2 linked regions of the Homo sapiens genome follow. The protein of the gene in region 2 purifies or fractionates together with the protein of the main gene of each other region. This does not show direct contact. Each region holds a gene or a part of one and is shown on either strand. Other genes may lie near its edges.

Region 1 (3,750 bases), on a different chromosome or scaffold from region 2:
GTGAAGTGGTATCTAATTTTGGTTTTGATTTGCACTTCTTGAATGGTTATGTTGAGCATCTTTTCATGTGTTTACTGGCCATCTGTATATCTTCTTCGAATAAATGTTTATTAAATTCCTTTGATCATTATTGAATTATGTTGTTAGTTTGCTTATTGTTGAGTTGTTACTGTGTTAAATATTCTGAATATGAATCCTTTATCAGATATATGATTTGCAAATATTAACTCCCATTCCACTAGTTGTCTTTTCACATTCTTGTTAGTGTCCTTCGATGCCCAAAAATTGTTAATTTTGATGATGTCTAATTTATCTATTTTTTCCATTTGTTGCTTGTACTTTGGAGTCTTTTTTTTTTTTTTAAGTGAAGATTGTTTTGATATCATCAGCATCTGCTGCAAACTTAAACCACTTTTGGGACTTTCTTTTCTCTTTTGTCTCTACCAAACTTTTAGCATCATTCCCTGATTCTAAATACATTTTCCACCTTCTTTTTACATGTCTTTTACAAATTTGAGCTTTTTTTTTAAGTTTTAAAACTTTTATAAGTTCAGTGTTGTCACTGTATGTTTACATATTCATTGATACAATTTACATCGAGATTTTTACTTATCCATTTTTGCAGATATGTACACAAAGATACATATTCAATAACTGAGAAACAAGTGAAACTTCTGATCTATACTTTCAGGTTTGTTCGATCATGACACTTCTGATAAGGATCATGGACATACCAGTTTCACCTCTTCCAGAAGGACGTCGTCATTTTATCTTAAGAGTTTACTCTGGGTTTTATTGCCGAATACAAATTCCCTCAATCGCTTTTTTCTTGCAGGTGCCTTTTTCCATAATTTTTTCTTATAACCAGCCCTTCTCATCCAAAGGCCACAATGAAGTCGAAGAAACCTATAGATGACAGCTTTCACAATCCTTCTCTTGCCTTTTCCTGTACTGACGTATGTTAGAGATCTGGCTGGCAGCTTCAAGACACTTGGAAGCAAGAGGGCCACTCTATTAAGGATCGCTGAAGTATGCCCACATGTCAGGTTTCTCTCAGATGTGGTAAGTCTGGGAGTGGAGGAAACAACTGGTGTCTGAATATGACTAAAACGTCCAGTGGACAATGCAGAAATAAGAGAGGCATTTTTGACACAGTTTTGGTAGGCTGAAGATGCCAAAATATTCAGAGGCCATAAGATTCCTGAAGCTGCTCTCACTGCACCGGCAAAGGCAGAGGCAGCTATCTCGTTATCCTCCAAATTTGAGCTCTTATTAAAGAGTTTTCTGCGTGCTCTGCTATATTTTTTCAAAAGGTCCCTCCACATTCTCTCCTTAATTAAGATCATTTGTGACTATAAAGTCCAAATAGCATTTTTTATGGCATTCAATCTCCCTAAGCTTTCTTTACTTCCAAAGTTTCATTCTTTGGAATCATATTTATGTTTTTTTTTTTTTGTTTGTTTGTTTTTTGAGACGGAGTCTCGCTCTGTCCAGGCTGGAGTGCAGTGGCGCGATCTCGGCTCACTGCAAGCTCCGCCTCCTGGGTTCACGCCATTCTCCTGTCTCAGCCTCCCGAGTAGCTGGGACTACAGGCACTCGCCACCACGCCTGGCTCATTTTTTGTATTTTAAGTAGAGACGGGCTTTCACCGTGTTAGCCAGGATGGTCTCAATCTCCTGACCTCGTGATCCACCCGCCTCTGCCTCCCAAAGTGCTGGGATCACAGGCGTGAGCCACCGTGCCCGGCCTCTTTGGAATCATATTTATCTTTTTTAAAAGTTTTAAGATTTGTCTCTTAAACTCTAGAGAACTTATTTAAGTGCTGCCAGTCTGATCTTTCTTGACTATTTAGAACTCTGAGACCAAATGTTAACTTCTCCCAATGATTCTCAAGACTACTGAGACCAATGCTTTAATGTTATTCAAAAGGCTTGAATAGCACTTTTCCCATTTACTTCTTTTACCCTTTACAAAATAAAACTGTTAATAAGGAAAAACTAAATGGTAGATCTTAGTCAAATTAGGCTTCTAGCAGTTATATGGCACTTGGCTATTACCACTATTTCTTGCCAGTATCTCAATTTGTGAATTATCAAGAATATAGCATTTCCTTCCAATGTCACCATTTATAACCAATGTAACCATCACCTTTGCAGATACACTGTGATATTATTTCTATGGATCATCCTTTAATCTTTACCCAGGTGATCTCGTAAACTTCCAGGTCAATTTTTATGTTATTCTAGGCAGATGGCAGTTATTAGATATAAAATTGATGAATATATTCAAACTATGTTAGAACTATGGAATTAGAATCAGAATGAACTTCTGGGATGATTAATACAATACCTTCATTGTATACATTAAACCATCAAGTGACATGGCCAAGTCATAGGAAGACACACTGAAGGATTTTTTCCTCTTTCATGGATTTTTAAAGAGGTATAAACAGTAAATAAGAGGTATAAACAGTAAACAAGCAATCAAAGTAAATAAGCATTTAAGTAAATAAGCATTTCCATAATTTAGAATGGAAGAAAATACATTCTTGGTAGAAAGAAAAAACTGTACTTGTTGAGATGAAATTCCATTTTATCACCTTCAACTATAACAGACAATATTTTAAAAATATTATTAATAAAGAAATATAAATGTAATATATCAAAATTTACTCATAATTTATTAAACAAATATCAAATGGACTTAGACTCTGAAGAGACTTAAAAAAGTGATGAATGTGCTTTTTTATCCTGATTGTGGTCATAGTAACAGGACAGGTATCCATCTGTAAAAACTCACAGAAATTACAGTAAAAAGGATGACTCTTACTATAAGTAAATCAAACGTCAAACACCTTAAAAAAATAAATGTTGGGCCGGGCACAGTGGCTCATACCTGTAATCCTAGCACTTTGGGAGGCTGAGGCGATCAGATCACCTGAGGTCAGGAGTTCGTGACCAGCCTGGCCAACATGGTGAAACCCTGTCTCTACTAAAAACACAAAATTTAGCTGGGCATGGTGGCATGCGCCTATAACCCCAGCTACTTAGGAGGCTGAGGCAGGAGAACTGCTTGAACCCGGGAAGGAGAGGTTGTAGTGAGCCAAGATCATGCCATTATACTCCAGCCTGGATGAAAAGAGGGAAACTCCACCTCAAAAAAATAAAAATATAAAAATAAATAAATAAATGCTTCACTAAGAAAGAAGTTAGTATATACTGAAGGAAATATTGAAAATACTGAGAGCAGTTGACATTGAGGCAATTTTGTTGCACAATTCTCAAGGACATTTACACAAAAATTTAGGATTTAATTTATATATTTCTAAACATATATACACACATCAGAAATAAACAAACAAAAAACCCCCAGGTTCTTTTGAAAAAGGAAAGGTAACTCACTGTCTCATTTCCAAAAAGTATATCAACATAAGGCATAACTTTCATCAATGATTCCTTGTAGAACTGGCTAATAAACGGTGCAGATAGATTCAAAGTGAAAATCCTGTTGTTTTCAGAAGCATGGTGAGCCACCTTTAATACTGACTCTGGGGAAACTGTAAGAAAAAAGCCCTGGATGAAGAAAAAAGGAGGGAAAATTAGAAATACCATCTCCACAGTCACTCTCAGTGAGAATAAAAGAAACCTATACAAAATACAAAAGTATATAAAATACAATTATAAGATGCAAGGCAGAAAATAGCAACATTTGACTGGAAGGATATTTGATCATATGAGTACCATATGCTTG
Region 2 (3,750 bases):
TTACTTTGTCTCCTTTCCAGTCCTCCATTTCTATCAAAAGTTCTGTGGGTCCCATCCTGGTAAGCTGGCTAATTTTATCATTTCCAAGCCAATATTCACCTAAAAGAAAAACAAAATAAAATCTCACCAAAAATAAAATTTTGGGAAACTAAAAACTGCCTTTCTTCCCTTATCTTTAGCTTCCACATTTTTGTCAGGAAACTCCTCTTAACTGCCTAAAACAGGCTTCCAACAATGAATGTTTTTTAATTAAAAAAAATCCCATTTCAAATAGAATGATTTTATTTTGCATGCCTGTTCGTTACCTGGTAGGCCACAGTAATTCTTCCCATCTGTGTTGGTTGCAACATTTCCAAATCCCTGTTTATATGGATCCCATTTCCTGCCAAAGTCAACACTACCGTCTTGACGGTTCTGAATCACTGTCCATCCTTTGGTTGACAGAAACAAAAAGAGCATATATTAACCAACAGCAAATAATGTCACTTTGAAAATAATATCTGAATCCCCTGTCCATTCCATTTAGTATATATTTGGTGCTCTAAAATAGACACAATAAGGAAATAAATATGAGAGGTAAACTTGTAAAATCTTTGGAAACTGCAAGTGCTTTATCTTACCCCAAATTGTGAATTATAGATATTTTATAACTTTTTAAATATCAGGTTGAATTCCACATCAAATTACTCTTTGTCAGCTATGTTAGATGTTAGAGCTAAGTCTTGTTTCCTGGCTTTTTAATTAATTTTTTTTTTTGAGACAGGATCTCACTATCCTCTGTTGCCCAGGCTACAGTTCAGTAGCATGATCAAGACTCCAGGTTGTGGGCTCAGGTGATCTCCCATCTCAGCCTCCTGGATAGCTGGGACTACAGGCACATACTACCAACACAGCTGATTTTTTTTTTTTTTTGGTATTTTTTTTTTTTTTGTAGAGTTAGGGTCTCATTATGTTGCCCAGGCTAGTTTCAAACTCCTAGGCTCAAGCTATCAGCCCACTTTGGCCTCCCAAGGTGCTGGAATTACAGGTATGAGCCACCACACCTGGCCTTGTTTCCTGGCATTTTACGGTATCCAAATAATTACAGATCAACAGGTCAACAACTGTCGAAAGCTTACCTCCATTTTCTGTATTCATGTCACAGTATACTCTATACGGTTTGACAGAACTGTCAGGTTGAATGAGATACATTTCAGATGTTTCACCTCCTTTCCTGATAATTTCCTCACATTCTGCAAATGTAAGACAACATTATGTTCAGGGGTTTATGACATAATTACTTTGTATTTAGTCACCAATTCTTTAAAATAACATTACATAAGTTACTAAGGAGTGTGTTATTATAGACCTTTGAAAATAATATAACAAATATTAGATTTTCATTTTACTTTAGTAAGTCCAACCCAGTTTTGAGGACGTTTATCTGCTAAGAGGATGAACAAAGCTCTTCTCCACCTTTTGTGTCCTGGAATATCCATGAGCTCCCAGAACACACAAAATGGAGAAACTTCTACATCTATCTGTGGTTCTGCCATCTGTTCAAGCCAGTACGCAGATGCACACATCAGCCACCCCTGGGACTACCTGTGCCCCATCCTGCTCATCAAAACCAGCAAATGCACCAGGCCAGTCCAAAACACAACTGGCTAAGGATATTTTTATGATGTACTGTAATGTCATTATGATCTGTTGGGAAAATCCACTTAGCATTTTTGTTGTTGTTGTTGTTCTCTTATTTTTGGTGTGTGAGTTCTTCTGGAACTCTCTAAAAATATGTTTATGAATCAGTTACCTTTGCCAGACACCACAGGAATATTGCAACTGACAGTGCATGGGGTGCGACAATATTCCATTTGAGCTGAGACATCAGATTCTAACTTTTGTATTTTGCTTCTCAGGTTTTCCAGGATTGAACGAAGCACACGAAGGTTAGTTGGGATATTGCTATTCACAGTCTCATCTATATATAATTGGTGCTTTTCCAGTTCTGAGGAGTACTCATTGACTACATTTTCATTATCTGGAAAAATGAAATTATGTAGAAATAGTTAGCATTTTTGCCTCATAAAACTAATGTATTTAACTATACAATTTTGATTTTCTGAGAATAAACTATTAAACACTGAGCTATCACCAAGCAGTTATGATATATAGTCATATTTAGTGGAAATGATTTGGCGCATGACATATACAAATTAACATAAATCCTAACCACCATACTAGTAATTTACCATAGGTATACGCTAAAGATTGTGTCCAGTAATAAATGAAATAGGTTGTTTATTTCTTTGGTGAGGGAAAAGAGGAGAAAGCAGTATTGGGGTCTTCCATCTGAGAAGTTCAATCTTACAGAGTGGATATGCTTGATTTATTTATCCATTTCACATAAGTATAGCAGAACCTTGAAATTTATAAGATGTCATGATTCCTTTGATTTCTTTGAAAAATTTCCAACTGTGGGTATGCTACTCACTGAGATGCCTGTGCCAGGCTCACGCACTAGCTGTTTCCTGACCACCAAGTCAACAGCACTCAACATTCTGACCTCAAGATTCACAGGTTAGGTGTCATTATCCACAACACAATTGAATATATTATGGATAACTCTCTCATTCAAAACCTCAAATGTTAAAACTATAAATGCTAGGGGTTTTTTTCCACTCTGTAAATATTATCTTCTGAGTCACAAGTTTCTTGTATACTTAAAATAAGGAGTCATAGTAGAATTTTTCATAGAAAATCACACTTGCTGATGTCAGACTGGGAATAAGAGCTGAATAGTGCTTATCTGGCAAGTTGCAGGGGAAGGTGCCCAAAAGCGTATGAATGCTATTCACTAACCCAGAAATGTTAATCTTCTCACAACCATGCATTCTCGTGGCAGTCTAACGGTTCCAATTTTATAGCTGAAAATCGAATGGAAAGCACAAGGATATCTACCTTTTACTTGCTTCTGCCTCTTTTGCCACAGGTCTTTCAGCAAATACATGTACTGAAAGGAAGAAGAGGAGGTCTGGGAAACAGCTTCCACATTGTTATTTAACTCATCAACACTATTTCTGATTGGCCTTTCCTGTTGTAGCAAAGCCTCTTGCAACTGACATCCTGTAGGACACAACACCCCCTAAAAACAAAGAAAATAGCAGGCATTAGATGAAGGATTTGGGTCATGGACATTTGTTAAAATAGCACATAGGAAAATTCAGCGATACGATTAGCCAACATAAAAATTTATTATTTGGTTTTCTGTAAGACCAGAAATTCGAAAGTCATCATCATACTCTCATAGAGATTTAAAATATTACTTACCCCAGAAAAAATATAATTGGGCTATGAAAATTTTACCAACTAAACAAAGGCAGTGGCAAAATACAAATGGAAAGGTGGCACCCACATATCCTAATTTGAAATTTTGGGCCCAGACCAAAGAAAACAAGAAAGAAAGCCTAAACCAAAGGCCCAATATGTTTATGTTTTGAATTTTATTTCCAAAATAAACAAACAAAATAACAGTGATGGTAATGTGGGTCAGTGAAACATTAGCAGACTGCCATGACTACAGGCTTTCTCTGCATGAGAGAGCCACCACTGCAAGAAACATCAGTGCACCCACCAGGTCTGGGTCAGCGTGAAGACAGCCTCCAGCATCAGGGGCTTTTCTTTCTACTTTCTTTTGAGTGGCAGCTGCTTTGGCTGGACGAGCCCGATAGCCACCTCCACTGATGGGCGGTGGGGCAGGCCTCAGGCTGG

The links. The genes of interacting proteins can lie anywhere in the genome.
Region 1: the proteins of FGB (region 2) and ADK purify together in Homo sapiens (affinity purification with mass spectrometry; 2 studies listed by BioGRID and IntAct, with this or other methods). This does not show direct contact.

What each region holds. Positions count from the first base shown.
Region 1 is NC_000010.11:74,525,078-74,528,827, reverse strand, and holds part of ADK (adenosine kinase), read right to left. Parts: intron 3,573-3,750; coding exon 3,402-3,572; intron 1,069-3,401; coding exon of another isoform or gene 1,054-1,068; exon of another isoform or gene 1-1,053. UniProt on the Homo sapiens protein: Catalyzes the phosphorylation of the purine nucleoside adenosine at the 5' position in an ATP-dependent manner. Serves as a potential regulator of concentrations of extracellular adenosine and intracellular adenine nucleotides.
Region 2 is NC_000004.12:154,565,863-154,569,612, reverse strand, and holds part of FGB (fibrinogen beta chain isoform 1 preproprotein), read right to left. Parts: coding exon 3,614-3,750; intron 3,125-3,613; coding exon 2,941-3,124; intron 2,021-2,940; coding exon 1,793-2,020; intron 1,233-1,792; coding exon 1,119-1,232; intron 432-1,118; coding exon 306-431; intron 100-305; coding exon 1-99. UniProt on the Homo sapiens protein: Cleaved by the protease thrombin to yield monomers which, together with fibrinogen alpha (FGA) and fibrinogen gamma (FGG), polymerize to form an insoluble fibrin matrix. Fibrin has a major function in hemostasis as one of the primary components of blood clots.